Regions from separate parts of the Homo sapiens genome. Here region 1 is linked to region 2. The links come from fine-mapping of genetic effects on gene expression. A gene starts in region 2. The other region holds a variant in brackets. All regions are shown on one strand. Distances are from middle to middle.

Region 1 (17,576 bases), 360 kb after region 2:
TTCTTGATAATTTTTTATGGAAACAAACCTCTGGTTTTAAAATGTAAATGCTTTAAATTTTAGTGGTCAGTAATAAAAGGTATTAGAAAAGTGTAGTACTTTGAATTTAGATTAAATGTCGTGTTTCTCATCATTCAAGAGAGTTCTGTTAGGACACTTAAGGTCTATGATGAATCCAGCAACATCTTATTCAAAAATCTTCTGTTTCAAAACATGCTGGATATGAGGCAAACAATTTTGTGCCAATGTTAGGCGTATGCAGAAAAATTAAATGAAATTGTTTCTACTTGTAGCTAGAACTTATTTACAGAAATATGAGTAAAATAAGAAAGTTAAAGAATTTTTAAATTCACAGAACTATCTTATACTTCAAAAAATAGTGCTATCATAGTTTTCAGAGCATGGGTGCAGGTTATTTTGAATGGTTTGCCCATCACTAATTTTAATGCATAAAAAATCTCAGCAGAGAGTCAAGCTAGGTATAATGTTCACCAAATGCCTTGTTATTTTTCTGCTCTTGTTTTATTCCCAACTTTATAAAAACTAAAACAGACCATTCTTAAAAGTTTTTTATAGCCCTGATTTTTAAAAAATTTTCTTCTCATATCCATAAAAAGTAAAGAACATGAGGTTCCATGGTGAGCACCAGAGGAAGATTATTGGTGGAAAAAGATTATTTCTCTAAAGTACACCTTTACTAAGATACTTATGCCAACATGATGGTCAGTGTTCTTCCAAATGTTTCTTCTCACAAATGATATTTGGTCCTTTATTAATTTGACCTTATTGCAACCCTCTCTCTATGTATCCTTACTGTTTCTGCCCTGTAGTGTTTAAGAAAAAGTCCAAAAAGTCACTCTTCTGTAGCATTAAGAACTTGGATGATTAGAAAACTACAAATTCAAGCTTCAATTTAAACAAGGCACATTTTCTGGACACCCCATGAATATATTCATTATTTATAAATCACAGGCATAATTTGTGATTCATGATTTATAAATCGCAGACATAATCAAGTTTGGTTGTCTCTAAGTTTTCTCTGTGTGTTAGTTGTGGTAAATCTATTTTCACTTTATTTATTTCCTTATTTTATTTTACTTTATTTTTTTGAGACAGAGTCTCGCACTGTCACCCAGGCTGGAGTGCAGTGGCACCATCTCGGCTCACTGCAAGCTCCGCCTCCTGGCTTCATGCCAATCTCCTGTCTCAGCTTCCCGAGTAGCTGGGACTACAGGTGCCCGCCACCAAGCCCGGCTAATTTTTTGTATTTTTAGCAGAGACGTGGTTTCACCATGTTAGCCAGGATGGTCTCGATCTCCTGACCTCGTGATCTGCCCACCTTGGTCTCCCAAAGTGTTGGGATTACAGGCGTGAGCCACCACGCCCGGCCTATTTTCACTTTATGCTAGTGTCTATGTACCTGACCTTTTGACAAAGTTAAACTAAAAATATAACAATCTAAGCTGGTAAAAATTGAGAAGTTAGGTCAGAACATCAAGAGTATGTGTATCAAAATATTTAGAAATTCTCCAGGAAAACAATGTAAATAGAAGTGTGTCGGTGTTTATAAGGAAAGGCAAGAATCTAGTAGTTATTCAAAGACAATTTAAAAATCCACATTATTGAGTTGTCATTCTCTTAGAACAAGGGTTGGTAATATTGGAATTTTTAGGGCCATCTTTTAAAAACACTTTATTCATAACTTCCAAATCAAAGATTAAAAATTCACAGATGTTTTTGAGAAAGGTAGCATCTATTTTCACTTTATGCTAACTATGGTTTATACAATTTTAACCAGATGGGTTTACATGTGCAGTAGCTAATTCATGCCAACCGTATTAAAGTATATTCTCTGAATTATGGGTAGGCTCTGGAGACCTCTAAATGATCTCTAATCTTGTGGCTAATATTTATGGTTTTCAAATGTTATCGTGATAGTTGAAATGCGGTCTGGATGAACCATAGGCTTCTCTTCTGTAGTAGTGTCCAAAAGGATGCACACTTTCTTAGGCAGTTTAGACCTTTAGAAGTGAGTAAATAATTGTATAAAATTAGGGAACTGAAATAATGCGTGAAATGAAAGATTCTGCATTTGTTGTGTAAATTAAGCTAGTACTTTTTGTTACTCTAATTATAAGTGTCTTTTGCCCCCATTAAATAGTAAAATAGTGAAAATCTGATGTTTCCATTTTCGGAGTTCAGCTGGAGCAGTGAAAACTCTGTTTTAATGTGTATTTTGTATTTATCTTTTTAAAACTTGATTGCGTTATGTTTAGTATTTTCTCCTGTTAGAAAATGAGTATCAGTAGATACTTATTGATTGAAGGATATTCTTTTCAATAAGGTGTGCAACAAGCACACAAAAACCTCTTCTGATACTATTGATATTCTTTTCAATAAGGTGATGTTATCACATGGTCATTCACATGAACTTTCTTTTTACATTGTTTTTCATCAGCTAAGAACTGTGATATATATTTATAAACTAATGTAATACTGTTTGATTTAAAATTTAGATAGGAAAAAACCTTAAAAGGCCTCATATTAAACATAGCTGTGATTGTGTTCTCTCTTGAATGGGGTATAGAAATAAGCACAAAGAGATAATGCAAGATTTCAAAGTCATAGATGCAGTATTTGTAATTTATTTCTTCAACATTTTCTTTCCCTTTTTCTGAATATGAATAAATATGTTTGTATATATAGAATATTTTCAAAGTGAAAACAATTCTCAATTTCTTGTAAGTTGGCATTTGTGAAACTGGGTTCTTGCAAAATTCTAGAAAAAAAATCTATAATTATCTAATGTATTTCTGATGTTTCCAGTTCCTAAAGAGCTATGGTACATTTGGCTCTAATTTATATTCTAGTTCCATTGTGCTTATTTGTCCTCTTGCGCTCATAGGAAATAGAGATATTTTGGAGCAGTTCAGGCTTAATCTCTCTTTGGGTTCTTATCTGTACAGCTGACAATGGTCATCTCAAAAAAAACCAAAACATTGTGTTAAAAAGTGTATTTAACAAAGGATTACCTTTAGTTTTCTTTAAATAATTTAGGAAAAAAGTACTCCATATTTAATGTGTTTCCTTTAAATCAATTCTTACTGTTGCGATTGTTTTAGTTCTATTAAATAGTTAACTGGTATTTTATAAACCTCACTGATACTACAGAAACAATTTTTCAGAAAAATGTACTCTTCCATTTAGGGCCAGGGTATACATTTGTTTAGAATACAAAATAGTTATTCTAATATTCTAATTCTTAAAAATTTTAGGGAAATTTTAGGAAATAAGTATATAAACCTATATTTGGCTGAAAACATATAATTCACTAAATAGTAATAACCCTTCAATTTGTTGTAAAATGACTAAGTCTGACATCTTCACGAAAATGCCATTTTATACTTAAAGTAACTCAAATTTCTTCCTTTACAAAGTAGAGTAAGTGACTTTATCATTCAGCAAAATGACTTAGCTCATTTAACATGTTTATTCATCTTATTAGTGATTCAGGGATATACATATTCATACCACTGCTGGCAATCCATATAAAATTAAATAAGATATATCTCAATGAATGTTTTCTATTTTAATCTTTGTGACATAAATACATGTTTGGGAGACCAAAAAAATTAGCAATTTCAGAGATTTTTTTTCTCTTGTGAATAATTATTCAAGTACATTAAAGCTTTCATTTTATTTGTAAGCTTATCTGAAGGCTGAATTATTTGAAAAGTCTTATTTCATCACTACCACAAAGGCTGTGGAAGATCCCTAGCTAGTTGTAATTGGAACTTTCCACTGCACAAAGTGATATTTGTTTTTCTTTTCTCTTCTGGTTGCTTATTGATAAATATAGTAAGTGTATTAAAACCAGAAGAGACAGATATGTACATAGGTATAAGTCAAATCCACCACATTTCTTTGTAATTTGAGGGTTTGCAATTTGAGAGCATGCAACAAGCACACTATTCTCTCTCCTTTAAGATTAGATGCTTGATTTCCTCTTCATTAGAGCCATTTTGAATAAGGCCTCTCAAAACACAGACATAAACCTGGGTGAGATGATATGTCCCTATAGGCCCAACTAGGGAGGCTGAGATGGGAGGAGTGCTTGAGCCCAGGAGTTCGAGTCCAGTTTGGGCAACATAGCAAGACCTTGTCTCTTAAAACAAAAGCAACAAACACACACACACATAACTGAGAGGAGCAGCAGAATAAAACACCAGTCCCCATTAAAATTTTAATATGGATTACTGACAGATTAGCCACCTGCCAATTGATGAACTTTTTGGAAAGGCATGGTGGAAACATGACAGCATCTGTACAGGCCAAAAGTTCAGGCATCAGAGTTGAGGTTCCTGGGAAGTCAAGGAAATAGCCTGAAGACAAGGACCACTAATGATGTGTTAGCACAAGGACGGCTTGACACTAAGAATGAACTTCCTCTGCTTTATATTTAGAATCCAGCTGTTAAAATCATGGGACTTGCCTAGAACTAGGATACAATAAGTGTGCATTGAGTTTGTATGTATCCGGAAACATCATATATGTAGATTAGAGACAAATATTGCAAAATAAGAAGTCTACAGTTTTCATCTATTCTTTCACTAGCCTAAGTAGGAATTCTGTATTTATTTAACAAATATTTGAGAAATGTGTTAATGAACTATCAAGTAAAGTGACATATTTAATCTAATCAACTAAGGAGACCTAAAATAAATGGCGTAATACAAAAATCAAGAGAACAGTTGGACAAGGAAAATTTTAAATGGAGTGACTACGGTAATCAGGTGGTTATATTGACTCTATGTTAAATAATTTTCTGGCTTAAAATTATAGTGCAATATATATTTGAATCTATACATTGTATGTAATATTTATATATAAACACATATATTCTAAAGTGTAAAATTAACTCTGTTTTCTTCTACTGAAATATTTTCTAATGGAATGGTGAATATTTCAGAGTCACATATTTTTAGAAGGGCACATTTATGTTATTTTATTTCTATGATCCTTTGCCAATCTGGATTTTATTATATATAAAAATTCCAAATTTGTTCTTAAAATATTGATAGTGAAAAGGTCTCAGAAGCCTAGCGGTTACTGACACAAGAAGAAAAATAACTAGGAAAATCTAGGTGATGACTACAGAAAAGGAAATGAATTCACTATGGATGTTCATATTCTTTGAAATGATTTCCTAGGTTTTGCAGTTAGATTTTCTTGGGGTAAATGTAAAACTTTATTCTAGCTCTGATATTTAGTAGTTTTGTGATTCCTTGGTATAACCACATGAATTTTGAGTTCCTACTGTCTCACTGCCAAATTGGATACCAGTACACCAAAGTTTGTCATGAGAATTAGATGACATAATCTAATAAAGGCATGTGGGACAGTGCTGGCCTAAGCAAAGGTCTTCATTGCACATTAATATAATCTGATCCTGACTCCTAGGCTTAACCAGTTGTACATCTCTTTGAAGGGATAACACATAGGAGCCTGAAACAAGCAAGCAAGCAAAAAAAAAAACAAAAAAAAAGAAAAGAAAAAAAAAATAAGACTGCTAACTTCAGTACTGCATTTTCGGTAGGAATTTGAAAGCATTTCAGATAATTGGAAAAGGGAAGATTTTTGTGATTTACTTAGAGGTAGGTCCTAGAGGATAAAGGATGTGAATCACAGTTTCAAAGGTGGAAAGATTTAGTGGAAAGTGGTGGATTAATAACAAGGCATAACTAGACTTGTAATCTTTTCCACTTCCTATTTAGGTAAAAATTTTTAATAGTACTGGAAGTCGAGATGAAAGTATGGATAGTCTAGGGGAATTGAGAATGGAAAAGAGGAGAATTATGAGATTTATGAGAATACTCCGAAAACTTTATATACAACTTATGAGGTTTCACTGAAGTAATTGTACTCAGCCTTCCCTCAGGGAGATCATCCTTGTAACCAATAAAGACTTCTAGTGCCAAATATAGCTTAGATTCCAGCACCCTGCACAACACAAGGTATGTATTAGTTGCTTGCTGAATATTCTGGATCTAAAGTAAATTATTTACTCTGATATTATAGATTTATCATCTCTGTCTCACTTGAAAAGCTATCTTCTCAGCGCCCCTCTCAGCATTAACCCATTTTCATGGACAAATGCAACTCATTGCACAAGTCTAAGAGCTTTCAAAAATACTCCCCCCAGCGCAGTATTATTTTACCTGGCACCATCAGAAGAAGTGCCATGAGGTCATTTCTCTTGAATTACAGTCAAAAGAAACAAAATCAAAACCAGCCTTTAAATATATTGTATTTGACTTCTGAGGCAACTCCAAGACGTTAATATTATTCTTGACTTCTCCTTCAATATAACTGCTGATTTTATTTTTAGTATTTTTTCATATTGTGGGTGTTATAGGCTAAAAGGAATGCATGAATTTGAAGAAGTCCATCAACCTGACTAATGTGAAGGATGATGGTTCTCTAGAAAGATCCAGGAGGTTCATATGAAACTGAACAACCCACTCATAAATGGAAACATCCTTGTTTGGGAGGGTTTTTTTTTTTTTTTTTTTTTTTTTTTTTTTGCTCATTTGTATTTTGGTTGTTGGTGATGTTTTTTCCTCATTCATGCTTTAATAGCAAAATCAGCATAGTTCAAGGTATTTTCTGTGAGTTAACAGCTGTCCTCAGTTAACAGTCTTGACTTCACCGGAGTTCCCCACACCAGAATGCTCCCATGCCTTCATCTTCTTAATTAAATGTTCTCTCTTTGTATATTTCAGTGAATCTTCCAGGTATAGTGATATTCTTCTTGGGGAGAGGCATCTGGTCCTATTTTAATAGTATGGAGGGGAAGTATACACATACATGAAAAATATAGAGAAACTCCTGCACAGCTATCCCAATAACTCTGGTTGTTTTGGCATTGTTTGCTTTCATCATCATTCCAGTTACCCAACCACCTAAAATGGTGATCAGGAAAGCAATCCTATAGTTTTAATTGTCGGTGCCTAGGTAAGAGCATAGGGAAGTGTTTACTTTTGGGAAATCTGATGGTGCAAAGACCATGACCAGAGCCTGGATTGAACAAACTCAATGAAATTTTCAGGCTGCTTAATATGATTCAGTTAAGTCTTCAGTGTGAAAGAAATTTGCAGTTACATTTTTACACCTGATAAAATCAAAAGACTGAGGAGGTAAATCATCAGCAGTGTTTAGAATTTAATTCACGTTGGGCGAAATTCATAGTAAGCTAGATCATACTGACTTGGAGGGATTCTTTAACAGTGTTTTTACTTCTCCTATTCCAAAGGTTTCTTAACCTATATAAGCAATTAGATCATCTAGTATAATGCATACAGCATGCTGTATCTCCAAATGTCAGAAGAAATGTCTGAATATCTAACTTGTCTAGCCTCATTCCTTGAAATGACCCAGATTTGTGAATATAAGAAACAAGCCACAGAAATAAAACTTCTTAACTCCTGCTCCTGTCTTCACACACCATGTTTTAAGTTAAATTGGCTAAGTTCTATCAGTGAACAATTGCTAGATTTAATTTAATAACTTGACTCCCTAAAATGTCCATGTTCATTTTCCTCTAGGGAAATATTTTTAATTCAGTTGAGCAATAGTATTGATTCACTTCTAATTTTTTTTTCTCTTTGTGTTTTATTTCTTCAGATTGTTTTTTCCATTTGCATTGCTTTCTGGGGAGTTAGAAGCATGAAACAACTCACCTCTCACCCTTGGAAATAACCTGAATTTGTACATAATTCTCTTCTTTTAATGAGTTGTCCACACGCATATTATGACTGCATATTAAAATGTAATTATTTTATGTAATGCTTATATGAACTATTTCTTCAATGAAAAGTAAAATTACTTATTTACTATTGTTTGCCTTTCACATTTGTTATTTTCTATTAAAAATTAAAGTCAGTTTTGGTTACTTCCCCCCTTTACTACAATTAAAAAAAGATTTCAAATATAATGATGTTATATTAACTGATAGCCTTATATGACAAGTATAAAAAGAAGGGATGAAACTTAAAAACAGTAAAAACAAGAAGGAATATTGCCTTTACATCAATT[T/G]GAAAACAATGTTTCCTTTGATGTTTGCTAAAATTATGCATAGATACATGTTTGTAGTCATAAAAATGTATTACATTGGTTGTCTTCCTAAGGCCACAGTTACCTTTGCAATCCATATAACCTAAGAAGCTGCATTCCAGAAAAAGACATCACTGAGGCCAGGCGCGGTGGCTCACCCCTGTAATCCCAGCACTTTGTGGGGCTGAGGTGGGCGGATCATGAGGTCCAGAGATAGAGACCATCCTGGCCAACATGGTGAAGTCCTGTCTCTACTAAAAATATAAAAATTTAGCTGGACATGGTGGTGTGCGCCTGTAGTCCCAGCTACTCTGGAGGCTGAGGCAGGAGAATCGCTTGAACCTGGGAGGCAGAAGTTGGAGTGAGTGGAGATTGCACCACTGCACTCCAGCCTGGGCGACAGAGCGAGACTCCGTCTCAAAGAAAAAAGACATCACTGAAAGAAAAATGAACAGAATTTGTCAGAATTAGTTTTTTCAACAGGTTACTTTGTCATACATTTCTCTAATATGCTTGGTCAATTTGTTTTGGCAGACTGGGCAGCATGCAGCAATTCTGCATTATTTAAAGTTATCAGAACAATGTTAATTCTCTAAATAAAATTACCCAAGGTGTTGTGTGTACATTGTTCATTGGGATTGTAAAAATCCACCAAGTGTTTCGTTAGGAGGGAACTGACAGGGATAAGCAGGATGAAGTCCAAAGAATGAGAACTGGAAAAAGTTAAAAAAAAAATCTTTATTTTTCATTTATCCAATATTTCTTGAAATCAAGTTAAAATTTAATAATTTAATAATAAAATTTAATAATTTAAATAATCAAAGACACATGTACTAAAAAAAACTAATGCTGTTCTTCATTGAGCTTTGCCTATGTATCACTGGGTTAAGGAGCCTGACTTAGATAATCTCATATTAGCAATACATTATTTAATCTTTGAATGGACAAAAATATAGAGTATTAAGAGAATCAGACTGCAGGTGTCTATGTGAACTGAGGATACAGAATTGAAGCATATTTAGTTTTCAAACTGGAACAGCAGAGGAAGATTAAATTTTGCATGATGAAAAAGCAACACATTCTATCTCAAGTATCAGAAGTGGGTTTGGCTTTGCTTCATTCTTTTTATACTTCTTAATTTAACACATAGTTATAGACAATACGTAAGCCTATAACATATATTGAATCCTGCTTTTGTCCCTTAACAACAATTTTCACAGAATTTTGTATACATATACAGAATCATGTTACAGTAGGGAGCCCTCTGCTGGCTTGAAATTAGGAAATTTAAGGCATAAACATTCTCAAGACCCTGATTCTACATTCTAGAGACTTTTCAGTGGGTAAAACACATTCTTCAGTAATGGCAAAGAAAAGAGACTTTTTGCTAATCTTTACATAGTTGTTTAGTATGTCAGAAGAGCTTAATGATTCCCCAAGGAATGATACATAAATATGTGTATATGCTTTAATATATGTGAATTTATAGGATTAGCCTAAAAATGAGTTTAATAATAGAAATGTTAATAAATAATTCCCCCAAATGAGAAAAGATCCTTTTGTGGTGAAGTTCAGTTTTCTTTGAGTAAATTGAATTCTGTCTATTCTCTCTCTTCTCTCTTGGGTTTACCTCACTGTGATTGTGAATGGTTTTCTATTAGAAATACAGATATTTTCAAGATACAAATTTGTGCCAATGAAAGTGGGAGTGGTTACCAGACAGGTAATGTTCCAGACACCTCCTATACAAAAATTATAACAGTGAAAAAATTAAGACAATGAGAAATCTGACCTAACAGACTCCATCTTGCTTCTAACCTCCAAGGTGTCCTTGTTTATTCCTGGGCACAGGCTGAGCTAACTTTGGTAGGAACTTAGTTTATAGTTTGCCTTTGAAACAAAAATGATAACGGCACTTTCTTAAAACAAACCCCCTTCTTGCCTGGGGACAAGGCTGCCTTTGTGGGACTAACAAATTAGCCACAAGATTAGAAAATAGGCTTAGGAGTCATACAGCTAGAGGCTACAAGATTCGAACTCTCCCCAGTTGCTCCTAGGGATAACATCATTATTGTGAAACCTCAGATTGGTGTTGGAGATATTTTTCAGCTCCTGCACTCCATGGATCAGCTGGCACCACCCAGATGGATAAACTGACTCATCTGGTCTTGTGGCCCCCACCCAAGAACTGACTCAGCCAAGAATAGCTTCAAGGCTCTTTGATTTTTATCTCTGACCTGATCAGTGAGCACTCTCCATTCCCTGGCCCCCTACCCACCAAATTATCCTTAAAAAACCCAGTCTCCGAATTTTCAGGGAGACTGATTTGAGTAATAATAAAACTCCAGTCTCCTATTCAGCTGGCTCTGCATGAATTGAACTCTTTCTCTATTACAATTTCCCTGTCTTGATAAATCGGCTCTGTCCTGGCAGCAGGCAATGAACCCATTGGGCGATTACATTTCTAGGGCCTCTGTGCATTATTAACCAAGGCACTTTATTCTTCACTTTATTCTTTAACCCTGCTAATTTTCCAGTCCAGTTTTCTTTTGCAGAGCACTAATACATGATGACAGAACATACAGCTATTATTAATGTTGTAAATTGATCTTGAGTGATACCATGTAATGTATGCTTACTGGAAGGACTTTAACACACTCTCTCTCTGTCTCTGTCTCTCTCTCTCTCTCTCTCTCTCTCTCTCTCTCTCTCTCTCTCTCTCTCTCTCTCTCTCGGGAAAGCCCTAAAAATAGGACTCGTCAATTACTCACCACTTCTATCGGAGAGATGCAAACTGACTTTGCAAATCATATGAAGATATTTACTTTTCCTAATCTACCATAAGAAAAGATAGAGGAAAGGAGCATTTGTTTAATGAGTAGTCCTCTATTAGTATTATTTTATTTAGTCTCTACAATCCTGTTAGGAGCTGTTAACACTACTTTATAGCAGATAATTTTGAGTCTGAGGTTAAATAACTTGTACAGGCCCATGAAATGTAATAAGTGACCAAAATAAAATTTAAACTCTCTGAAGTCGAACATTGAAGTCCATGATGTTTCCCCATTCCACGATGTCAGACATCTGAATAAGGCAAGCCTTTAAAAGTATAAGCTGAGGAGTTTAAGTTCAGAGTATTTTCAATTCAATTTGATGCTCCAAGATACAAAAAAAGTTCTCAGGATAAGTATTTTAGTCATAAGATTAATTGACAGGGTGAATGAGTCCAGAACTTCTAAACCTTCTAAGAATGGCAACATCGTAAGTTTACTTATAGGATTGCCATATGTCTGAAAGAGGCTACAGGACTTGTCAGTTTCCTCCAGACTTGCTCATTACCTTAGCTCTATTAGTTATGCCATTTACTTCCATATCATCTCATTCCATCAAATTATTTTTGTTAAACTGAATCTAATCGTCTCAGAGTCCTGATATTTAGCAATATGTGCATTCCTAATCATGAATCAGATGTTCAATTAGTTGCTAAAGTATATAAACCCTTGTATTTAACATTAACAGCTTACATGATAGTTTATTAAATATTTTCAAATTTCATTTTTACTAGTGATTATATAATTTAATCCCTCAGTGTGGAATCTGCAATAGAATCATTGACTGGAATTCTTTAACATATGGTATACATTATAGTGTACAGTAATAGGATTTATTCGGGAGAACAATAGAAAATAAGCTTCCTTTTTAATGTCTCGCCCATGTTCTCATAGTCATAGACTCCAGAAACCCAAGATAAAATAGCAAAAAACAGACTAGTTTGACTTTCAGAATCTTAAAACATTTTTTATGTTATAATTTTCAGCAACATGATGGAAGCAGCTTGGCTCTATCTTAAGCCTGCCTCAGTGGAAAAAAAAAACAACAACAAAAAACGTTCTATTCATTATTAGAACATTTTTTTCAAATCTCACTCCAGTTCTGCCATCCGTTCTTCCTAACAACTTACATTCCTTCCTCCCCAAGACACAATTAGAAAAAATTAGCAAATTAAGCATTGATGTTTATCTCTTGCAGATTGTGCCTTCTTTTTGACATTCTACAACTCTAGCACTATTTATGTAAACATTTTCAACCACCCAGGCACCCCAATATCCATGAATCATAATAACTTCATTTCTTGGGCATGTTCTTTCTTCATTTTAACAGCAGTAAGCCCCAAATTACAACTTGTCTTGATTTACATTACAGAAACCAGGAAGACACAGTCTTTGCTTTATGCATCAGGATTACCTGTGGATCTTTTTAGAAACGGAAATGACTGTTGGGAACACTGAATTTAGTAAGACTGAGGACGTGCCAAAGGTTCTATATTTTTCAAACCTCTGGCAATGATAAGCTGCAGAAGCTACAGCCAAACTAGAATGAAGGAGAACTTCTCTTGTCCCTCCTGTCAAGTTTTAGAAATAAGCAGAAAAGTTGTGCAGTGTGAGAGAATATTGTTTCTATAGCAAAGATGTTAATTAAGAGAGGTAATACTGATTAAGTAAGCATGGATATTTAGACATGCCACCAAAGTTTTCTGTTTCACATGAGATCATTTTGCATACATTTTAAAAGAAACGGAGCCAGCCGGGCGTGGTGGCTCACACCTGTAATCCCAACACTTTGGGAGGCCAAGTTGGGTGGATCACATGAGGTCAGGAGTTCGAGACCAGCCTGATCAATATGGTGAAACCCCTTCTCTACTAAAAAAAAAAAGTATAAAAATTATCCAGATGTGGTGGTGGTGCCTGTAATACCAGCTACTCTGGAGGCTGAGACAGAAGAATCGCTCGAACCCGGGAGGCAGAGGTTGCAGTGAGCCGAGATCACACCACTGCATTCCAGCCCGGTGACAGAGCGAGACTCTGTCAAAAAGGAGAGGAGAGGGGAGGGGAGAGGAGGGGGAAAGAAAAGAAAAGAGAGGAGGGAAGGGGAGGAACTGAGCCAGAAAATGTAAATACTATGTAAGCATCAGCAAGCTGGAGAGTGAATGGAGGTAGAGTGGGGAATGGAGATGTGGTCGAAAAATATTGTCACCATAGGTCCTGTTTGCATTTGTCTGATTTTTCATTTTTAATGGAAGATTATTAATAATGGTAATGATACAGGAGTTAACAAGGCATTATTTGGGCAGATTATGAGGATAAGGAAGTCCTCGGTAAGGTTTTCCTTTTAAAGAAAAGCAGCTCCTAAATCATTTTCTTTTCTAACAAAAAGCAGTCTGTAAAATCAAGCTGCAGTCATGGAAAGGCAAGCTAGAAGCTTGCACAGGTAAATGCCAGCAGTTGTGCCAATAGGAAAGGGGCTACCTGGGGACTAGGCATGTTCAAAACGGTGGTTCCATGTTCCCTTTTCTTTGCTAACCACGTGTACGGTAAGGAGCAGACAACATGGCGCCAGCCAAGTACAAAACCCATTTGCATAATAAAAAGATTAGGGTGGAGTGACAAGCTTCTTCGCAGTACTATGTAAGCGTCACACCTGGTCCAACCAATCTTTGGGCCCTATGTAAATCAGGCACTACCTCCTCAAGCCAATCTGTACAACCCTGTGCACTTTACCAGGGGCACGGAAGACCCACTGGGGCACCCATCTCTCCCTGCAAGGAAAAAAGCTATTCTCTTTTCTCTTTCTTGCTCCTATTAAACCTCTGCTCTTCAACTCACTTCTTTTGTGTTTCCATGTCCTTAATTTCCCTGGCATGAGGCAAGGAACCTCAGGTATCTATCCCAGACAATGACTGCTTTAGTGTTAAAATATACAGGGGGTTAGGTTTGGTAGATCCCTATTTTACACTTCTGGCTTCTTCCAGGGTCTCTTGTAGTAGTGTGAGGTATGTGTGCTCACTGAAGGGAGCTCTCCCTGTAACACAAAGTTAAATGTAAAAGATGTCCATACATAATGGTTTCTCTCCTCCCCTTATCCTATTCAGGCAAATCCAACCAACACATCCCTTTCAGAGACATTAGACAAATGCAACTAACACATCCCCTTCTGAGGCAGTACACAGCATGCATTTTAACTTGCTGGTAAAATGATGTCTGCTGAGACAATCGGAGCCTAAAGGGGGCTAATTCTCTCTAGACAGGGGGTATTGGAGATCATCTAAAAATGGAACCTGGCAGCCACACGGCACACTAGGAAACCTTGGCTTGGCCTACGTAATAGGCTGCAAGATGCATAAAATCATCAGGATGCCATGAGCCCCTCCCCACCAAATTAATAACTCCATATTTAGTAAGCTAAGTACTGATTTGCTTTTGAATAAAACTTATGCTAAACATATAATTTGCATAAAATGTTTATCAACTTATATTATTCACAGGGTGGGGGAAGATCAGTGATATTACTGATTGCACAAAAACCAGAAGGAATAAGTGTGCTGAAGAAGTATCAGCATCTATTTCGAAAGTTTGTACTCATTTTAAGATATTCATGCTCAAAGGGGAGATCTAACACATGCAACTGCAGAGGGCATATGCACTCTCTGAAATGCATCATTATTCAGATTAAAAGACTTTTAAGTTATTTTACTTATATATATTTTTCTTTTTTTTTAATTTTACTTATTTAACCATTAAAATTACCTTGTGCACAAACAAAAAATAAAGCAGTAGCTATTCATGTGCTGGCTCCATAGCTGAAGGACTTTGCAATCAGTTAAAAGATACCAGTTTCATCTCACTGCCATCTGATTTTCCAAACGGATCAATATTTTCATTCAATTAATGTAACTGAAGTAATTTTTAACAGCCTATCCCATCAAATGTGAAACACTTGATCATTACAAATTAAAAAGTTTAATACTGAAAATAAAATTATATTTGTTTTGTAGAGATAGTATGAACAGAAATTTTGGTGGATAAGTGTAGTAATACAAAGCAGTGTTCTTTCTAAATTAAGAGATTGATTGTTAGCAGAAAAATTTCTTGAAATTATTTGTGTTGGACATAAAAATAATAGTATTTAGAGAGGTATATTGTGAAAATTTAAAAATATTTTATGTATACAAAGTTGCAAATTGCCTAGAAATTTATTTGTTGTACAATTGATGTTAAATACAAAAGAATACATCAAAATAAAAGTATGTTTTGCTGCCAGACATCAGATTTTAGAAGTGAGTAAGACTTTGAAAAAAATTTTCTAAATCAAACCTGTGTCCTCTCATGTTACTGAACTTTATGGTAGACTCTGTCAAACTTGGTTGCATTTGTTTAGAACTAGTTGGAGATCTTTAGACAAATATCAGTAAAGATTGACAAAACTTTTGTTCCTGAAGTTATTAGTGAATTTCACTTATTGAAAACGAAGCTTGCAAACAGGGAGATATTGAAATTGATCCCTATTAAACTAGGAAAGGACTGAACAAATTATATAATAAGAGTTCCAACTTCAAGTGAGATTTAACTCTGACACCCAAAGTTGAAGCTTGAGAGTATTGATGAAACTTCTGTTTCAAAAGAGATAAACTTATATTATGTACCAAGAAGGAACAGAATTTAAAAAGCCATAATTTCACAGCTTGTAAATTTGGTAAAACAATTAACAAGTAATAAATAAGACAAATTACTTGATAAATTTTGTTTTGTAAAATATTTTTGAAACGTTATTCTGAATGTAGGCAAAAATACAAGAGCTATGACATATGTTGGAGTTAATTATATCACTTAATAAGAGAAAAATTAGAAAATATCATACATTTGCTGTATTTTATAGCTTGTTAGATACTTCAGTACCTGTATGGATAGTATTTTCAGAATATAAGTGTTATGCAGAGAAAAGTCAATTGCAAGTGTCAACACTTTTGAATGTATTAACCATAAGATGAAACTTTGAATAAGAATACGGATAATTTTATTTTAAAAATTCAAAATAATAACACCATATTAGAAACAATATCTTCAAAAAATGCCACTGGCATGCTATTAAAGATAGAAGTGACTAAGAAAACTGATTAGAGTATATATTAAGAATAATTATTCTGTTTATGTCATTTTTAATATTCTATAACCTAGATGATTAGTGTGAAGGTTTTTTAAAAATTTGCTTTGGTGACATTGAAACAGGAAAGTTCCTTGACCCCCTTATGGGACTTACGACAGGGGTGTGGCTAGTTTGCTTGGCTCCTGGTGCTCAAACTCCTTATGGGAGGGGGAACACTCAAATGGACAGGTGCAGGAGCCAGGGCGGGCACTTTTGGGCGCTGGAACCACAGTAGCGTCTAAGGGTGTGTTACAATTAATGCTCTATTAGCAGTTGCTGTCTAGGGATGGCTAAGTGTTAATCAGCTCAGTGGAGAGTCAGGGTGACAGCTTTTTACACCCTGCGCTCTTGGTACCTGGACCTTTGTCCAGTGTCCGGGAAGAATCAGGTCACACAGACTTGAAGGATGGTGAATGCAAGGATTTTACTGAGTGATGGAGGTGGCTCTCAGTGGGATGGATGGGGAGCTAGAAAGGAGCTAGAAAGGAGATAGAGTGGGAAGATGACCTTCCCTGGAGTTTGGCTGTCCTGTGGCTGATCTCTCCAACCATCCCCAGCCGAACTCCTCTCAGTGTTCAGATGCTCCTTCTCTTCTCTCCTTCTCTGCCATGCTGCTCTGTCACTCTTCCACTCTTTTGCTTGTGGAGCCTGGGGTTTGGGGTTTTTATGGGTACAGGATGTGGGGGGCATGGCGGGCCAGGGTGATTTTGGATAAAGCAACATTTTGGGCAGGAAAACAGGGATAACTTCTCATTTAGGGTCACGGTTTCCAGGCTCGAAGGTGGGGCCTTTGGTCGGGAATCCCACACTTCTGCCTCTTCTCCATATTAACATGGTTTTGTTATTTCTTGTTTTGAAAAACATTTATTTTGGAAACAGTTTTGAATATACTATTGTATAAATTTGCCAACATATTAAAACAGATTTTTGATGAATAGTTCTCTGTGTGTGTGTGTGTGTGTGTGTGTGTGTGTGTGAGAGAGAGACAGAGGGAGAGTGAGAGTGAGAGATTTTATTCGATCAATGATTTAGACAATCACTCTACCAGTAAAACCTATGTAAGCCATTCATAAATATGCTAGAGAGAGGAAAATTCTTTTACATTATTTAACACTGCTTGATGTGTCTAGGCTGAAGAGTCAGAAGTGGAGTTAAGCACTTTCAATATCTTACATTCTAAATATACTAACTTGGCAAATAAAAGAATGAATGACTTAGTGCCTTAAAAAAACTTTTAATAGTAAAGTGATTTTAAAAATTTAAGCTAATTTATTGAGACCCTTGAAGAACAATGATTTTCATCACTGAACAGTTTCAAGAATCCATTCAATTTGACGAAGACTTACTTCGTTGCCCTTAATTATAAGAGATTCAATTATAATACATAAAAAATATCTGACAAAAGTTCATGTTCAGTAGTTTGGTGTTTAGTCTCAACTATGTCATCTGACTGGGTCATTGATTCCAAATTTGTGGGCTGTGGT
Region 2 (13,841 bases):
TTACCATACTATATATTACAATATGAACAGTATTCTCTAAAAATTACTTATATTATGAGATTATTTATAGTAATATGTAAATTATCATATATTATGTTTGCATTTGAACTCCAAAAATGGTCATGAAAATAAAATAAATATAATAGATCTGGTTTTCAAACTAAAAATGAGTATTATTTATTCATTTGAATATGATTGAAGTGAATACATGAAAATCATTCTTATGTTTGGCTTGTAATTAGTTTTGTCAGTACTTTTTCTTTTCATTGAGAATTCTATTTTGGGCTTTGAACTCCAGATTTATATATCAACCTGTGCAACCATCTCGACTTTGATGTCTACAGGCATCTCATATCATGCTTTAAGCCAAATCTTGCAGTTTGTCTATCACAGTAAATAACAACTTTATTCTTTCAGCAGGTTGAATCAAAGTCTTGAATTATTCATGTCTTCTCTCTTTTAATCTCATTCCCCACATCTGATCTCTTAGCAAACCTTATCAGCTCTACCTCTAATATGTTTTCACAATCACCCTTTCACTTTGACTCTTTCTGCTGCAACTATCCTAGTGAAAGTAAGCAAGATTTACCTGAACTATATCAACTATTTATGAAGAGTCCTCTGCTTCCAGCCTACCTCTCTAAAGTCCATTCTTCACAAAAAAAGCAAAATGATCATTTCATACAATGCATTGGACCATGTGACTCTTCTGTTCAAAACCCTCCAATGGTTTTCTGGATATATTAGTTAGGAGATTGTTAGCCGTTAGGTGAACAAGGTTCAAATAATAACAAATAAAACACAAAATACATTACAAATTTGGTATTTGCTCATATAATGACCTGATTGATGGGCTGCTCTTCTCTATGTAGTAACTCAGAGACTCAGACACCTAATTTGGGGCTTTGTCTTTTCATCATGTGGCTTCCAAATTTTACAAAGCTTGACCTCACATGACACATAGAGTATGAACTCTTCTATGTAAAATAATGTGCCTGAAAAAGACCCTAAATACAAGATGTTCATTAAAATATTGATGAGACTACAATCTGATTGGTGTGGTTATGAGTGCTTTTTTTCTTAAAAATCTTCTGCATTTTCTATATTTCTACAGTAAATATATATTATTTTATACTTTTAGAGATATAAACAAACTTTTTAAGATGATCATGTCAGTGTAGGTTTCCAGTCTAATTCCCAGTAAATGATTCTAATGACTAAAGAGAAAGACACGTGGAGAAGGAAAGGATTTCACCAGTTCAAGAGTACAGTCTAGCAAACCATATGTCCCCTCATTTGGAGAGTTAAAGTTTGGAAATATGGCAGCATCAAGCAGAACGTTAGGATTTCCTTTCTTGAATTCCCCTTGAAATGCATCTCTGTATGTTACTCTTAATCCTTGGTTGTAAGACAACCATTCAATGAACTACTTCTTCAACCCAGTTTCTTTAAAAAAAAAAAAAAAAAAGAAAAAAAAAGAGTTTCTTTCCTCTGCTGTAATGGATGAACCCTGTAATCTGCATGTGGTCAGTACTGGTGGGGAGAACTATGAGTGATATTGATACATTCTAATTGGAGTCATTTTGGCTTTGAGGGCCAATGACAGCTGAGGAGAAATTTACCATCCAAAGTGGGGGAGTTATAGCAATTGTTACAAGCTAGAAATGTCATGGATTGAGAATCTTTCTTCTAAACAAATTCTCATTTGTCACAATTGTCAATTTGTCCAAAAGCAAAAGCCATGTTTTCTGACTGGGTTACCCCAAACACTAGGCCTTGGACTTACCCCAGCTTCAACAAATACAAATTATAGGAAGATCTCAAATGGTACTTTTGTATGTTTATAGAAAGAGTAGAGGCCAAGGAGAACAAAATCAAAATAAGGAAAGCTGATACGTGCCATGGCAGCTCTAATTCACTGTAAAAGCCTGCTGGGATAGCTGGGGCTGCTGAGTGATAGCTCTATCCTCCACCATCTCATGCTGAACCGATAAGACAGACCTAAACTCCAAAGTGCCACGTATACCTGGAGTGGACCCAAGGACTATTCATCCACATCTTTTTTTGTTTTTTTGGTTGGGGGGAAAAGAAGCATAAAGAACCCGTACCCATCCACAATAAGACAAATTGGGAGTGAAGGAGGGGAAAGAGCTTATTAAAAGTTGATAAAGAACATGCTTTTGAGTATTATCTCCAGGAAACTAAGAATAATTTTAGGCAGAACTGTTGTATACACGCAAGTGAAATAGGAAAAAAAACTGAAGAAAAAATGAGGCCATATGATAAGAAATAAATACAAAAGGAAGACTGAGAGAGTTTAGGAAAACATTTAAGAAAACAAATAATGCCATTGTGAAATTTGAAGTAGACCCAGAAGGAAGATGAAAATAGCAAAAAAAAAAAAAAAAAAAAAAAAAAAAACACAGAAAAACAAAAAAAACTATACCCAAAGTATAGACTTAAGAAGACAATATCAGAAAATAAAAAGGAGATGAAAATGGACACAGACAATATAATGGATATGGTAGACAAATGGTATCTGGTAAACAGATAAATCTCATTTGTGAAGAAGTGTAAAAAAATCAATGGAACATAAATAATAGGCACAAACACAATGGCAGAAATTGCCCTAAAGCAAAGGAAGATTCAAATCTGAGGTTTAAGGACGCTCACCTCTTAAAAATATTCTACCCAAAATATAAAAAACTATAATGATTTAATTTCAAAGGCACAAAAATATTCTACAAGCACCCAGGAAGTAGAAATGAATGACTTTTTTTTTTAAGGCAAGTTGAACTCAGACTTAATATTATTTTGAAATATTAGATGCCAAAAGAAAAGGCAGATCTATAATTATAGAGGTTCTACCACTCTGGTTTTCTTACATAAACACTTCCCAGAAAAGCCTTTACATTTTTTACAATTTTATAAACATTGAAGCTAAGTGTTATATAAATAAGAGACTGTGATGAAGACTTTTTATAATTATTAAAGAGTGTTATGTCTTGTACTAATTATAGGTTTATTGCCTCTCATCTCCAAATTCAAACTTTATTACCTGATTTGTGAAATGGAAATAGGTCCTTTCAATATTTTTCTTTGCTAGCTGACATGACGTTAAGCTTTGTCAGGAGTGGGCTGCAGACAGTCATTGTTAAAGGAAGAGGTTTTCCTCCCTTGTTCCTACATGCTCACTTGGCAGGGTCTTGTAACACAGGCAGATTCTTCAGTGCCCAGTTCCTGAAATGCATAGCAGCCAGTAGCTTACCTGGCACCTCTTCAAGTGGTTTTGTAGGAAAGTGCCTCTAGTGAGAAATTCCTGGTGAGCAGCGTCTTCTGTCCTTTTTCATCCTAAAGGGCTGATTTAAAGCAAGTTCCCCAGTCCAGCCCTGGGAGTAGTGGCTGCCCCTTCTGTCTTCTATTCCTATGTTCTTCTGAGTTTTCTTAACTTTTATTAGCCACTCCCTTATAATGCCAGCTACCTGTTACAGCTGGCAAACCTTTATATTAAATTTCTCCTATTCAAATTACTGTGTTTTCTCTCTCAAAATTGGACCTTTATCAGTATCACCAGAGGTTCCTAATCAGTTGTTTCTTTCATGTCGTTTCAATAAAGATCTTTTGATGTCTTTTTGTGTTGATTGATTTGCAAATGCAAATACTGAGAGTAAATAGTTCCTCATGTAAGACATTCTCATGGGATGTCTGACACTCATATTAGGCTCTTCTCAAGCATTTTCCCTTGAATTAGACGCCCCCCCCCCCAAAAAAAAGGGAATCCCCAGCAGAATTCCTTTGACTAGGTAGCTTTGAGCAGAGATCTTGTCAGATCTTGTCAGATCTTGTCAGAGTTACTCAGACAAGAAGACATCCGAAAATGTCCGGGGTGTTGATATAGTTTGGCTGTGTCCCCACCCAAATATCATCTTGAATTGTAGCTCCCACAACTTAGAAGTCCCAATAGACTTCTAATTATCTACCTTATTCTAAATGTATTTTTTAAACTAATTTGGAAGATGTTCCTCTTAATCTTATAATATTATAATTATCGTAGATATATCTATGACTACATTTCATATTCAAATTGTGGAAGGGACCTGGTGGGAGATAACTGAATCAATTGAATCATGGGGCCGCTTTCCCCCATTGTTCTCATGACAGTGAATAAGTCTCATAAGGTCGGATGGTTTTATAAGGGGAGACCCCTTTCACTTGGTTCTCATTCTCTTTCTTGCCTGCCGCCCATGGAAGACATGCCTTTCACCTTCTTCCATGATTGTGAGGCCTCCCCAGCCACGTGGAATTGTGAGTCCATTAAATCTCTTTTTCCTCACGAATTACCCAGTCTCAGGTATGTCTTTTATTGGCAGCGTTCAAAAGGACTAACACAAGCGTCCTCTTTTTGGTTCATGTGAAGGTTCAAAGTCCTGTGTTTTGTCCACCTTGGTTTCACCTAACAGGTCTTCAGCCAAAGTGCTCTGTCTCTGTTGAATTTTGAAAGAATTACTATTTGAACCAAAAAGTGTATATTTAGCCAACTTATCCTTCACATAGATAAGCAAAAAAAATTATAGTAAGGTATGCAATTATACATGTACTGTCCTGAAAACTTTGTGCAATCTGTAACAGTACAAAGGAAAAAAAAAAGAATGGAAGATATAAGGAATAGAAGTGTTGGAAGTGAGCATTGACATGATTTAGTCATAGAATTAAGTTCAAATGATTTTAGTATATACATTAATTCATTCAAAACAAATTTATTGAGTGTCTCCGATGTCAATTCTTTCCATATTAATCCATGAATTTAATGTAGTTCCAATTAAAATGCCAACAGGATGCTTTGAAGTTTAGTCTAAACATTTACACAAGCAAATGTGTAAAAACAGCTTCATATTTTTGAGTAATAAAATTCAAGCATGATAAATTGTTCTACAAGTTACCAGAATTTATTATGACAGTACAATAATGAAGACAACATGGTACTAGCATAAGAGTAGATAAAAACATCCATAGAGCTGAATGAAGAGCCTGGAAATAGTACAGGTACATAGAATAGTGGGGAAAGTATTGACTGACTAATGGTGTGGCAAGAACTGTGATCCATAAAGGCAAGGTAAAAAGTCAAATAATTACTACATACCATATGGAAAACTAAATTCCAGATAATTGAAACAACAGAAATCTTTTAAATGCTCCAAAAAAAAAAAATCAGAAGATTATTCTTACGGAATTCTGGCAAGGGAAATGTTCATAAGCAAGATCCAAAAGCAGAGGTAACAAAGGATAACAGCACACACAAAGTTACAATTGCAGTATGACAACATATAGATAACTAGTGAATATGAAATGAGAAAATACTTGTCACATATATCAGAATATATATACTGTACATAGAATTATATATTTATAATACAAATGGCCTATAAACCAATAATGACAATGAAATAAAATAATGTGCAGCTCATATTAAAAAATAAATTTCAGATTAAGAAGCAAAAAAACATTAATAAATGTACTGAAAGATGTTCAGTGTCATTAGTGAGATGCAAATTAAAACAAGATACCATTTTTTCATTAACTAATTGGCTAAAAATTATGAAAGATTAATAATAGCCAGTGTTAGCAAGAGTGTGGAGGGGAAGGCAATCTGAAAGGGGAATTCGGCAGTAATTATCAAAGGGTAAATTTTACATCATCTTCATAGCATAATTCCGCTGCTAGGAATCTATGTAACAAAAAATGTGCAAAATGTATAAATATTTATACCATGATGTTTATTGTTGCATTAAATTTATTAGTTAAAAATGGAAGACTGCGTTTACACACACAACAATAGAGGAGTAATTAAATAAGTTATGATGGTGTGCTGGTTCTTGGTTGACTTTTTCCATAGATTGATTCTTCCCTCCCTTTCTCCTTCAGCACTGTGTGTAGTAAGAGGTTACCTTCAGCAGGCTTCTTTTTCTAGCTTTTTCTGTCAACTGGCTTTTGACTCATTTAGCTTGTATTAGTCTATTCTCACACTGCTGTAAAGAACAATCTGAGATTGAGTAATCTGTAAAGAAAAGAGTTTTAGTTGCCTCATAGTTCTGCAGGCTGTACAGGAATAATTGCTAGGGAGGCCTCAAGTAACTTTCAATCACTGCAGAAGGGGAAACAGGTGTGCCTTACATGACCAGAGCAGGAGGACGAGACAGAAGAGGGAGGTGCTACACACTTTTAAACAACCAATCTCTTGAGAACTCACTCACTATCAGGAGAACAGCAAGAGGGCAATCTACCCCCATGATCCAATCATCTCCCACGAGGCCCCTCCTCCAACACTGGGGATTTCAATTTGACATGAGATTTGGGCCAGGACGCAAATCCAACCATGTCATAGCCTAATGGGAAGTACTGTTGGGAGACTGGTGGGCAGGAAGAAGGGAGAAGCCATAGTACTTCCCTTTCTTCCCTCTCTGCCATGGGTATTATTTCTGGCTTTGATTGGCTTTGCTCCATGGGAAATACTCTTGCTAGACAAGCCAATGGTGGTTCTAACTTTTCCTAGATGACCATAGCCCCTGGGCCCTACTAATACAACCTTCTCCATTTGTCCCTACAATTTAACAATGGTAGTGGCTTCCTATTGGTACTAATCTCTAGATTACCTCTTTGTTCCTGCTTGGTTTTTTACTTCTCCCATCATCTATGTAACAACTTTTTTCTTGTATAAAATTGCTTCTGCTTTAAAAAGTTAGAAATAATTTTGTTTTGCTCATTGAAATGCACACACACACTTTTGCAGCCAGTAAAAACAACGAAGAAAAGGCTGTACCTGTATAATCATATACTAAAAAAGAAATGTTCCTGGTAAGTTATTGACTCCAAGAAGGAACTTGCTGTATCTTATGTTTGATAAGGTCCATTGCAAAATCGAACCATTATGTGTATATAGAAACGTATTTGTATAGTAATAATGATAATAACTATCCCTTTTAGGAAAAAACAGATATGGCAAAAAAAAAAAAAAAAAAAAACCCCACCAAGAGGATATGTTATCCCTATGAAGTGAAGTGCAAGGTGTGCATATATTGAGAAGAAAGGATGCTGCCACTTTTGACTTTATATACAGCTATATTGTTTGTATTTTTTTCTCTTGTATCACATTGTTAATTTCCAAAATTGTTTTGAAAGCAGGTAATAAAACAGTATGCCTACTATGATCATTTTTATTAAATTTTTTTTTGTTTTTGTGACAGAGTCTTGCTCTGTCCCCCAGCCTGGAGTGCAATGGCAAAATCTCCACTCTCTGCAACCTCCACCTCTTGGGTTCAAGCAATTCTCCTGCCTCAGCCTCCCGAATAGCTGGGACTACAGGTGCCCATCACCACACCCAGCTAATTTTTGTATTTTTAGTAGACACGGGGTTTTGCCATGTTGGCCAGGCTGATCTCAAACACCTGACCTCAGGTGATCAGCCCGTCTCGGCCTCCCAAAGTACTGGCTGGGATTACAGGTGTGAGCCACCACGCCCAGACACCTTTATTAAAAATTAATGTCCATATGTACTTATTGGTAATGGGAATGGTCTGAAAGGACAGTCAATTCTGCTATAACATGTGCTTTGAGATTAAATTTGTTCCAATGTGATTAATATACCAGAAAATAATTTGAGCATACTGCCTATGCTCATGTGTGATTTTATTTTCAGTGAAAAAGAGTAGTTGAACTTTAAAAAACTGAACTGAAAAACAGAAAGGCTTAGGATGCACAAAATACACCCACCACTTATAGTAACACCCTCACTTCACCTGTGTGTTGTGAGCCTTGACACCCATATGTCATATTGCAACTTTCTGTCTGATTTCAGATAACCCACATTTCAACAAGCTAAAGTAACTTGCAGTTTGCAAATCTTCCAATGCCTAATTTCCAAAACAAGTTTCAGGTCTTTTTCAAGGTAAAGCATCATATTTATTTTAGTATTTATGTATATCTTAACCATGTAACGTGTGAAAGTGTGCTACCATTTTTATTAGGCTCTCATCCTTTTTTTCTTGTTCCTTGTGGGTCATTATGAAGTTTTTGAGTATTTTACCCTAATCACATTTTTTCTCACAAGTCCCGTGGTTTTTATTGCACAATTTTGTACAGTATAGTGATTTTTAGGAATGGATATATCACATTATAGCAAAACTGACCATACATGTACCAAAATGTTAATAGCGTTTTGGGCAGCTTATTATTGCTTATCTATAGTTTCTATATTTTTCTAAAACAATCGTGCATTGATACTTTAATTAGATCTATGTAAACATCTTTAAATGATGAAATGGCAGCTAAAGGATGATTACAGCTGTTTTGGGTAAAGAGCTGAGGCTATTCTGGCAAGCTCCACATATTCACTGGTAATGTAATAAATTAAGTGCCTTCTAATCTACTTAAAAGGTACAATCACTTAAGCTCTTTCTGTAAAACAGAAACAGGTCTCACAGCAACATCTTGGCACCTTCTTTAATCAGAAAGTTCCCATAAGTACTAAGAAGAATAGAGAAGATGTGACTAGCCAATTTTCCATTAAATAATGTAGATTATGTAATAAGCCAAATGCCCCTAAACTGGTTGCAAACATTCAGAAGTGGTAATAACATGATTCAGATACAGAAATATAGATAGGCAATAAGGAGCCAGATATTCAGTGCTTACTGACTTTCAAGCTATTATTAAGTAGCTCGCCTATACACAGTCTCTGTAGGAAATAAAGAAACTACAAGCTTGAACACATTGTAAATTTCTAAATGAGGAGAAAAAAAGGTTTTTCTATGTGACTTGATGCTTGAATTTCTATCCAGTTTTTCAGAGTGAACATATACCTGCGTTATCACTTTTTTCTTTCCGAGACACTATTATGATGTTTTTTCTCTTCTTTTTTAAGTAGTAACTTGCTCCACCTACAGTCAAACTGCACTGTATGACTTTGATTTGGGTATGAGTCCTCTTTTCCCTCCCCCACATGCCCTGTTTCTGGCCCAGCGCCCACTGAACTCTGTACTTGTTCTTGATCCTTGTATTTTCCTGTCTCTCTACACAGAATCGGCTGTTGAGTGTGCTCTCAGTGGAGCTTTGGTTTTAGCTGTTCTCTGACAAAGAGCTTGTTCTGAGCTGCACATCTCGTCCTCTTTGTTCAGCCTCAGGCTTCAAGCATTGAATCCTAAATATTCTCCAGCTGGGAATCAGACAAGGGCAGAAATGAAGAACCCAGAAGCCCAGCAGGATGTTTCAGTTTCCCAGGGATTTCGCATGTTGTTTTACACGATGAAACCCAGTGAAACTTCATTCCAAACATTAGAAGAGGTGCCTGATTATGTAAAAAAGGTGAGACTTTATTGGAAGAGGCTACTCTTATTCTTGCTGCTTTCTTAATAAATGGTAAGGTCAATCTCCTTAGGGTTTTGTTCACTTTCATTATTCAAATGATTACATTCTAATAATAATAATTCAGTTTCTTAAAGGCGTGAAGCAAAAGTAGAATTTCCACTTGAATTTTCTTACAATCCATAGCCATCTTCACCTGTAAATTCCCTCTTTTATATGTCACTCCAGAATATGACAAAAACAAAAGTTTAAAGTTTTCCTGGACTCCATGGCATTGTAAATGTAGCTATTGGAAGCTCAATGACAAATAGTTACACCACATCAGTAAACTTTGTAACAATTTCATTTTTAAATCTTTCACTTGTCCACCCCTTCCAGGGAAACTATTTCCTCTTTCATTTGGTAGAGTAGTTCAGCAGAATGAAGGATATGCAGCTTGACCAGGTCCAGCTCTGACTTCCTAAGTTTGAATTTGACCCAAGTTTTCTTTGAAACTCTGAAGTGCTCAGAGGCACATTTCACTTCTGGTTCCTGGCTATGATTGGAAGTGGAAATATCCAGAATTAGAACTTGAATACTGAAGTTCCCCACCCTATCAAAGTTATTCCTACAACACTCACTAGTTCATGGCAGAAATAGAAAAAAAATGACATCATAGAATATGTTATTGAGAGTTCAGTTTAGAAAGCTTCAAAACTCATGATTAGCTTCCAAATGAGTAAAATCCGTATCTTTTTCAAGATTAGATATTACACTTTCTTTCTGAGTTTTTAAGTTAAAAAAAGTGGCACTGATATCTTCATAAATTATTATTGTTTATACTGCAATATCAAACCAAATTCAATGCTCCATCACCAATAGTGGAGCTTTCAAAACATCTCTTATTATGTGAAACAAAAATCAAAACCAAATGAATAAAATCTGAATCATGTTTTAAGCAAACATGTAAAATTACCATATTCTCTAAAATTCTAAGCAGAAAATTGTCTCTACTCTTTGAATTTCATCATTAGAAATAGTTCTGGTAAGTCTAATATGAAAAATTAGAATTATGTGCATCTTTAAGGAAAGCCTCTTGAAGTGGGTCTAAATTATACATGTAGAGACAATAGACCTCTAATTATCTACCTTATTCTAAATGTATTTTTTAAACTAATTTGGAAGATGTTCCTCTTAATCTTATAATATTATAATTATCGTGGTTATATCTATGATTACATTTCATATTCAAATTGGATGATAGAATTTGAGCACATGTTTAGTGTATGTCTAAAATAATTAGACTTCTTTACCACTGTGTAGGAAGTAATCCTCTAAAATGAGTGTCTACCATCTCCTGCAGGGCTTCCCAAATCTGGGCCTTTCAATTCTGAAATGACTAATCAGGAAATGTAAAATAATTTCATATGGAACATAATAGCATCTCTTTTCTGCAACTTCCTTTCCAGGCAACTCCATTTTTCATTTCTTTGATGCTGCTTGAACTTGTTGTCAGCTGGATTCTCAAAGGAAAGCCACCAGGTCGCCTGGATGATGCTTTAACGTCAATCTCAGCTGGTGTTCTGTCTCGACTTCCAAGGTGAGTTAGATGGTCAACAACGCTGAGCATAAAAACTGAAATTGCCTAAGTATGAGGGGCAAAGGAACCCAATGCATGGGAGAATTAGTTTATTTACACAAATTTTCCCAAAAAATTCAGTTCATGTCATTATTTAAAATTTTGATATTTTGTTCTTCATTGATTTTTTGCACTTATTTAAAAAATCACCGCAAACATTATTTATCTTGACTCTGTTGATATCCCTTTGAAATGAGTGCTTCATTTGCCTTATTGAGGTTCCAACTCTGAGTTATGGTCTGGTTCTCTATTAAAATTGTGTTTTGTCTCTTCCAGCTTCAGAAAGAATAGCTGTCTCGGGTGTAGCCATTCCCTAGAGCAGGTCACACAAATCTCTGAATAACTACAATAGTTTGCTAATTGGTGTCTGGCTCTAGTACAACCCCGTTTGCAGCCAAGCATTTCCATAATATGAATCCAGTGGAAACCCTTCACTGGCTCTCTATTGCCTCAAGTGTAAGGTAAAAATCCCTGTCTTGAACTATAGAGAACATTGTTTCTCTGGCTTTGCTTTTGGATCGTCCACTCTCCTGTCTATTTGTCATGTTTATCCTGTCATGCTTTACTACTTGCCATTGTCCACATGCCACAGGCACTTCCCTCTGCCTGGAAAGCCATCCAGGCCAATTCAGATTCATTCATTAGGTCTAAGCATAGACATCACACTCTTCAGCAAGCTTTATCTGTTTTCCAACCTTATGTTAGGCATTCCTGCATTCCTACACTACAGTCCCATGGAATTGTGTGCTTATCCCAGATCTAGAATTATCACATGACATGATGCTTACCTGTTTTTCTCTCAGCCCTTCCTGCTAGCTTGCACACAACTTGAGAGCAAGAGGTGTATGTTCTTAATAGTTTTAGCTCCTGTGCCTGGAATGATGTCTGTTGCATGTAGTTTCCCCAAAAGCAGTAATATTCCTGTAACATTATGTTGATGATAAAATTAGATGATATTGGGACTCAATAATAGTAAGATATAAATGACCTACTATTTTTTAGAAAGAGTACATTATAATGTGTGAAGAGGAAAGACCAATAAATGGAAGTCATCTTCAACACGTGAGGGCTTACCAAAGAGGCAGAGGGTGAGGAAAGATTCCCTTAGAAGTCTGTGCTTTGAGCTGCTGATGAATGTTCTCATTCCAGCTTCCCACCCATTTCTTCTTGTCCTGTTTTAAGAGCTTTACTTCTGACTGGTGCTCATTGCTTTGGAATGTTTCTATTAACCGCCCAGTGGGAAGCTAAGGTGGATTTTTAAAAAATAACATTAAAACTTTAAATATCTAAAAAAGGTGGAATAATTTCATATATTACATAAAATAGTTTAAATAAAAGTAAACTTAAAAGTAAAATTTTTTCAATAAGTGTTTGAGAAAAGTGCATTATTAGGTATATAGTAGAAGTAATATTAATAATATTTACTCTGAAAAACTACTTGTAATTGTTGCATTTTGCAGTTGAAATCAGAAGAAGATAATGTCTCCAGAAATTTGCAGCTAATTCCCAGATTATCATGAATAAGAATTTACAATTATAGATAATTTCCTTTATTATAATACTTGTCCCCTTTAAGCAGAAATGAACAAGAAAAACATTCAACATGCCCAAGGGTATATAGATTTAGATGTAGATTTAGTTATTTAAAAATACCCAGTTGGTTAATTTAGCTCATTCTCAGAAAGTTAAGTGTATAGGTTATGGAAATCAGATTATTGATAAACTATAAACGTCACCCAATAACTGAAAATTGCCCTGTATATACGATTATGGGTCATATATTTTACTGAATTGGAATGCATTTGTTAAGCATTTTGACAATGAATTTGACAGCAAATTGAATGAACTCTTCAGAATTTTTTTTTTTACCTTTTAAAGTTTGATTTTGTTCCAAATGAAATTAGATTGTTCTCTTATCATAACATTGTAAGTACCAGAAATACAAACTGTATCCTCAATACAATATTTTTGCTTAGCAGTGTTATTTTAAAAAGGTACAGAGTTATAACAGGAAAACAAGAATAAAAGAGATATTTTTACAAAAAATACACCCCAAAAAGCAGAGAGAAAGGGGAAAGGGGGGAGAGAGAGAGAGAGAGAGAGAAGGAAAAAAAGAAACCAAAACAAACCAGTCCTTCAGGGATAGAACATGAGGTTCTTTTCCTTCACCCACTACTCATAACAGTCCTTAAACTAACACAAACTGTTAACTCTGGTGCCCTTTGAGAGAAAGGTAAAAGGTTATGAACTTTAATTTGGAGAATATTTTTCTAAAGTATTTTAAATGAGAATAGCAAATTACTCCTTTCTTCCTTGTAGATGTAAAGAACAATTCTAAATTATGAAATGTGGATTTTTAAAAAGTTTTTCAAGGAATTTTCTCTTTTACAGCCTTGTCTGAAAGATCCCAGTAAAGCAAATTATCTGAAAATGCATTTTTTTGTTTTGTTATATAAAACTATGGTGAAAAATATTTTTATTTTATTTTTTGCTATTAAAAAAAAATCCCAAACCCAGATATAAACAGAAAAGGAAAAGCGAGCCTGTGGATCCATTCCTCTCAATCCCCTTTCAGAAAAAAAAAGGAAGAATTTGACATCAATTCTTAAAACAATATTTCAGTTGAAGCCACAGCATCAAGGGGAATCCCTGTGCAAATCATTAACAGCTGAGGGTTAGATTAACACGGCAATGATCGGATCCTCTCCCAGGGACTAATTTCATTTTCTACACTAGCAACAGGGGCTTGCCACGTCCTTCAAATAGGTGATTGCAAGACAAATGGTAGTATGCCTTTTGCTAATTCGTTTGTGAAGAATTATGCTTTGGATAATAATTCCAAATAAGCATGTGGCCTCTGACAAAA

Which allele goes with the higher level. Alleles are on the strand shown, and positions count from the first base shown. SD is a standard deviation of normalised expression in the study named.
As copies of T replace G in region 1, the expression in hippocampus of the gene that starts at base 9,062 in region 2 goes up (moderate effect, 0.41 SD a copy in GTEx).

What was found.
Region 1: its variant is fine-mapped to the expression of AGMO in hippocampus (GTEx, PIP 0.98).

Annotation. Positions count from the first base shown.
Region 1 is chr7:15,191,467-15,209,042 of GRCh38, reverse strand. AGMO (alkylglycerol monooxygenase) reads left to right here. Exons shown (of 13, transcript NM_001004320.2): 13 at 7,684-8,726. The coding sequence ends at 7,758. Among named protein-coding and RNA genes, the nearest start is that of DGKB, 300 kb to the right of the region's middle. The variant T/G (reference allele first, on the strand shown) is at 8,095.
Region 2 is chr7:15,557,236-15,571,076 of GRCh38, reverse strand. AGMO (alkylglycerol monooxygenase) reads left to right here and starts at 9,062. Exons shown (of 13, transcript NM_001004320.2): 1 at 9,062-9,357; 2 at 10,806-10,936. The coding sequence starts at 9,232. LOC124901591 (a long non-coding RNA gene) reads right to left here and starts at 12,220. Exons shown (of 3, transcript XR_007060217.1): 1 at 12,050-12,220; 2 at 11,764-11,896; 3 at 10,877-10,981.